Regions from separate parts of the Homo sapiens genome. Here region 2 is linked to region 1. The links come from fine-mapping of genetic effects on gene expression. A gene starts in region 1. The other region holds a variant in brackets. All regions are shown on one strand. Distances are from middle to middle.

Region 1 (2,916 bases):
CATCCCCAAACTCTGCGGGTAGATCAGTGACTATTACTATATTTTGAACGAGACTCCAACCCATTGCTCTCTCGAGAGAGAAGGATTGCCCGCCTTTTTCCCCCGGGCAGGAGCTCGGCGAGGCCAGGAGAGCCGCGCACCGGCCGGGCAGGGACGCGCAGGCGTCGGGCGCCGCTGGTTGCGCATCTGGCGCCAGAGCGCGCCCCCAGCGCTGTGCCCGCCGCGACCCGGGCCATGGGCTGGTGCTCCGGAGCGTGCCGGGCGCTCTCTCCCCGCGCGGGGGCACCAGAGCCCTCGGAAGTGTCAGGCACTGCGGTGTATTTTCCCCGTTCTCTTTTAAATGACTGCGGAAAAACAGATTCCGAGCCGCAAAAGGGAAGACGGATTCTCAGACAAGGCTTGCAAATGCCCCGCAGCCATCATTTAACTGCACCCGCAGAATAGTTACGGTTTGTCACCCGACCCTCCCGGATCGCCTAATTTGTCCCTAGTGAGACCCCGAGGCTCTGCCCGCGCCTGGCTTCTTCGTAGCTGGATGCATATCGTGCTCCGGGCAGCGCGGGCGCAGGGCACGCGTTCGCGCACACCCTAGCACACATGAACACGCGCAAGGTACGGCAGGGGAGCAAGGGCTTGGGATGCCCTACGTGGGGGTGGGCATCGCGGGGAGTGAATCCACGATCTGGGAATGGCTACATCCCGTCAGGTTAAAGGATGAGAGAAAATGACGCGGCGCCACACATCGGACAGGCCAGGGTGGCCACCGAGCATTTAGAATACGCATCAGGCGCGCTCCCTTCCCCTCACATGTCTCTATTTCCCGGGCGTGTGATGGCAGAAAACGGCAGGAAAAAGACCCACTTAGAGAGCTAGAATTGTGTTTGGAGACTCCCTTCCCTCTGCAAAAGCACCAACAGGAAGCCCCTCCAAAACCACCGATCCCCAAATAGGTGGCCCGGAATGGGGGCGGTGATCCTTGGTTACCAATGCAGAACACGTTTTGGTGTTTACAACATTTATTTATTTTTAGGATAGCTTGCCCTCCCTTTTAGGCAGGGTGGGAAAGGAGAACGCGGGGAGGGAGAAGGGAGGGAGGATTCCTATAATAAGAATCAGCGCATTTTTCAGAGCTGAACCAAGCACGGTTTCCATTTCAAAAAGGGAGACAGCCTCTACCGCGATTGTAGAAGAGACTGTGGTGTGAATTAGGGACCGGGAGGCGTCGAACGGAGGAACGGTTCATCTTAGAGGTACCTGGATGTAAATGCACACACACACACAGACACACACACGCACGCGCGTGCATGTCTACACGGCCAGGATGTGTGCGTGTGTGCGCGCGTGTGTGAACTCCCACATGCTGCTGCTGTCTGCTTCTGGCCAGTGGCACCGATGCCTCCCTCCTCCCTGCTCGCCCCCAGATTCCCCTCCCCTCCCTGGTGCTTTTGTCTGGAGGGTGTTATGGGTTTGTGTGTGTATGAGCGTGTGTGTGTTTTTGGATTTCAGACTAATTTTCTGGAGTTTCTGCCCCTGCTCTGCGTCAGCCCTCACGTCACTTCGCCAGCAGTAGCAGAGGCGGCGGCGGCGGCTCCCGGAATTGGGTTGGAGCAGGAGCCTCGCTGGCTGCTTCGCTCGCGCTCTACGCGCTCAGTCCCCGGCGGTAGCAGGAGCCTGGACCCAGGCGCCGCCGGCGGGCGTGAGGCGCCGGAGCCCGGGTGAGCAGCGCAGATAGTGCCCTCGGTCGCCTCGGCCCTCACTGTCTCCCCCTGGGGCGGCCTCGGCTACTCCCCAGGTGGGACGTGCCGCGCCACCTGCCCGCGCCACCGGCACCCAGCGGCCGTGGCGGATTCTGCAGCATCATTCGGGGGCCCCGTCGCGGAGCCAAAGCCGCCGGCAGTCTCCGCATTCCCCTTTAAAGGGTCCTTCGCCCGGCCTGTACCATGGAATCCTGTCTTGGGGACCCTTTCCCTACCTCCCCTCCCTTGGCCTCAGGCTCGAAGAGAGAGTGGGCACACTGGTGGCTCCAGCGGCGTCAGTGCCATCGCGGGGCAAGTTGATTCCTGGGCCGGAGCTGGGCACTCATCCATCCACAGTCTCCGGGCTGGGGTCGGGGTGGGGATGACGCGAGCAGAGAGGGAGAGTGCCCCAATTAGTGGTGTTGGGGGTCCTACGCTCAGTCTTACGCGTGTCTGTTTGTCCTCAGCCTCGAGGTGCATACCGGACCCCCATTCGCATCTAACAAGGAATCTGCGCCCCAGAGAGTCCCGGGAGCGCCGCCGGTCGGTGCCCGGCGCGCCGGGCCATGCAGCGACGGCCGCCGCGGAGCTCCGAGCAGCGGTAGCGCCCCCCTGTAAAGCGGTTCGCTATGCCGGGGCCACTGTGAACCCTGCCGCCTGCCGGAACACTCTTCGCTCCGGACCAGCTCAGCCTCTGATAAGCTGGACTCGGCACGCCCGCAACAAGCACCGAGGAGTTAAGAGAGCCGCAAGCGCAGGGAAGGCCTCCCCGCACGGGTGGGGGAAAGCGGCCGGTGCAGCGCGGGGACAGGCACTCGGGCTGGCACTGGCTGCTAGGGATGTCGTCCTGGATAAGGTGGCATGGACCCGCCATGGCGCGGCTCTGGGGCTTCTGCTGGCTGGTTGTGGGCTTCTGGAGGGCCGCTTTCGCCTGTCCCACGTCCTGCAAATGCAGTGCCTCTCGGATCTGGTGCAGCGACCCTTCTCCTGGCATCGTGGCATTTCCGAGATTGGAGCCTAACAGTGTAGATCCTGAGAACATCACCGAAATGTGAGTTCCTGGAGCTTTTCCTCCTTTTTCTCCTTGCCCCTAGGGCCCGAGCTGGCCAGGTGGGTAGGTCCTGGAAGTGAATGCTGTCCCAAGAGTGGGGAGAAGTCAAAGACAAGGGATGCAGGACAG
Region 2 (2,916 bases), 180 kb before region 1:
GATTGGAGTTCAGCTTCTTCGGCCTTTAGACTGCAATGCTGTTTCCCACGCCCATAGCTGTGACCCATACTGCCACTATGTATACGAGTTACTGTGTAACCTGAGCAAGTGTTAGGAATTAGTACATATATTAAAGTGTCTCCCGTAGACATTTTGCTTTAGGCAGTGATGGAGAACCCATTTGTCTCCAGGCAGATGTTGCTATTGGGCAGTCTAAAGAAAGGCTTGGCTGTGAACACAAGTAGGGATAGGCTGGCAAACACCATAGTTTACTTGTTTGGATTGGACAGGATATACACTGTCCTTTGTGGCTGCCTCCAATGAGGTCCTGGAAAGCACAAAGGAATTTCAGGCCTTGTAGCCAATCATGGCTTAGGATGCAGGGGTTGCAGATGCATCGATCTGACCACCTTCCTGTGGTTTCTCTCCAGCCTGGCTCTTTGGGGCTGAGAACTGCTGCCTCCACTGGAGGGGATTTGTGTGGAGACTGACATGTGGATGCTTGGGCAAAACCAGGCCTTAGGCATAGTTGAAATTTTAGACCATGTATAACTTTAGACTCTAAAGCGTATGTTCTCAATGGGAGCAATGTCACCCCCAAGAGGATGAAATTGGTTCTCAGAGAGCAAAATCTTTTAAATAATTTTTTTGATATAAATCAAAGGTATGTGTACAACACATGGATATACAGTATATCTGTAATGGTAAAATTTGAGGGTATTTAGGGATAAAAATGTCTAAAAAGCCTCCTAAGGGAAAAATAATGAAAAAAAAAAGATGGAGAAACGTTCGTCTTGGGCAGTGGTTCTCAGTGTTGGTTACACACTAGAATTATTGAAAGAGTTTTAAAAATGTTGATGCCTAGGCTGTACTCCAGACCAATTAGATCACAATCTCTTGGATTGGTTTCAGCCACTAGTATTTTTTTTAATTTCTTTCCCTCTTTCCTTCCTTCCTTCCTTTCTCTCTCTCTCTCTCTCTTTTTCTCGAGACAGGGTCTCCCAACGTTATGCAGGTCTTAAACTCCTGAGCTCAAGGGATCCTCCTGCCTGGGCCTCCCAAAGTGCTAGGATTACAGGTGTGAGCCACCACACCTGGCCCAGCTACTAGTATTTTTAATGCTCCAGATAATACCATTGTGCAGCCAAGTCTAGTAATTCCTATTCTAGAGCCTTGGTACTCAGAGTGTGATCCATGGGTCAGTATCGTTATCATCTCCAGGGAGTTTACTAGAAATGCAGAATCTCAGACTCTTAGGTGATTCCTGCACCTATTAAAGTTTGACAAGCACTTAGATAAATACTTATTGCTACCAAAATCTCAGAGCACTTCAGTGCAGCTGTGTTAATCAAATGTCAACATGTTTCTAGCTGTTTGTTTCCGGACCTCACTGTTGGCCTTTGGAATGAACAACCTGGTGTAATGGGAGTGGCCCTAGGCTATATTTGTGTTCTGACCTGTTGGGAAGCCCTGCCATCTCGGAAACTGAACAGACAGCTCATTCCCAGGAAGGGGACCAATGTAAGCAAAGATGGCCAAGTCTAGTCAGCTGGAACTAAGTAAGGGAGGATTCTCACTGTTAAACCAATTACTTTAGAGTTGGTAGTTCTTCAGTAAGAGGCTGGTGCATGGATGCATGGAGAGTGA[T/C]GTTTGGGGCAGGACTAGCTTGGCAAGGCTACAGGATGGATGAGAACTGAGAAAGAATGGGAAGTTGGAAAATTGCTTGTATCTTGTGAGGTCTATGTACGGTCTGCAGTTCATTCATTTGTTCATTCATGTATTCATTCAACAAATATTTATTGAGTGGTCACTATTTGGATTTGATGTGGAGTAATTGTTATGGAAAAAAGAAGGATAAATGTGACAGACCTTGAAGGGAGAGCTTTGGAAATAATGATCCAAAGAAATATGCTAGGAGTAAGCTGGCTTCTATTTTTTTCTTTCTTTTTTTTTTTTTTTTTTTTTTGAGACGGAGTTTTGCTCTTGTCACCCAGGCTGGAGTGCAGTGGCACGATCTCAGCTCACTGCAACCTCCACTTCTAGGGTTCAAGTGATTCTCCTGTCTCTGCCTCCTGAGTAGCTGGGATTACAGGAGTCCATCACCAAGCCCAGCTAATTTTTGTATTTTTAGTAAAGACAGGGTTTTGCCATGTTATCCAGGCTTGTCTCGAACTCCTGACCTCAGGTGATCCACCTGCCTCGGCCTCCCAAAATGCTGGGATTACAGGCATGAGCCACTGTCCTGGCATCTATTTTCATTTCATTTTCAATTTTAAAGTATTTATTTAATATTTAATTATTGACAATGATTGTGTATATTTAAGGTGTACAATGATGGTTTAATATATGTATATACTGTGTAACAATTATCACAATCGAATTAATTAACATGCTACCCATGCTGTGCCTTAGATCACCTTATAACTTAAAGTTTGTACCCTTTGATTAACATCTCCCCATGTCTCCCATTCCTGCAGCTTCTGGCAACCACAATTCTATTCTCTGTTTCTATGACTATGACATTTTTAGTTTCCACAGATGAGTGAGATCACACAGTATTTGTCTTTCTGTGCCTGGCTTATTTCACTTAGCATAGTGTCCTCCAGGCTCATTTACATTGTCTCAAATGGCAGACATTTTTTATGTCTGCCATTTTTATGGCTGAATAATTCCAGTGTGTATGTGTGTGTGTGTGTGTACATTTTCTTTATCCATTTATCCACTGATGAACATGTAGGTTGTTTCCATATCTTGGTTATTGTGAATAGCTCTGTGACAAACACGAAGGTACAGATATCTCTTTGAGATACTGATTTCATTTACTTTGGATAAGTGGGATTATTCAACTGTGGGATTGCACTAATTGGTACAGCCATAGGGGAAAACAGTATAAAGACTCCTCAAAACATTACAAAT

What was found. PIP is the estimated chance that this variant, and not a neighbour inherited with it, causes the effect.
Region 2: its variant is the best candidate, but not a certain one, in a credible set for the expression of NTRK2 in thyroid (GTEx, PIP 0.54).

Annotation. Positions count from the first base shown.
Region 1 is chr9:84,668,174-84,671,089 of GRCh38, forward strand. It overlaps NTRK2 (neurotrophic receptor tyrosine kinase 2), which reads left to right and starts at 1,556. Exons shown (of 19, transcript NM_006180.6): 1 at 1,556-1,715; 2 at 2,204-2,787. The coding sequence starts at 2,576. RefSeq lists a silencer at 81-300.
Region 2 is chr9:84,484,324-84,487,239 of GRCh38, forward strand. All of the region lies in intron 2 of LOC102724036 (a long non-coding RNA gene), which reads left to right. Among named protein-coding and RNA genes, the nearest start is that of SLC28A3, 150 kb to the left of the region's middle. The variant T/C (reference allele first, on the strand shown) is at 1,648.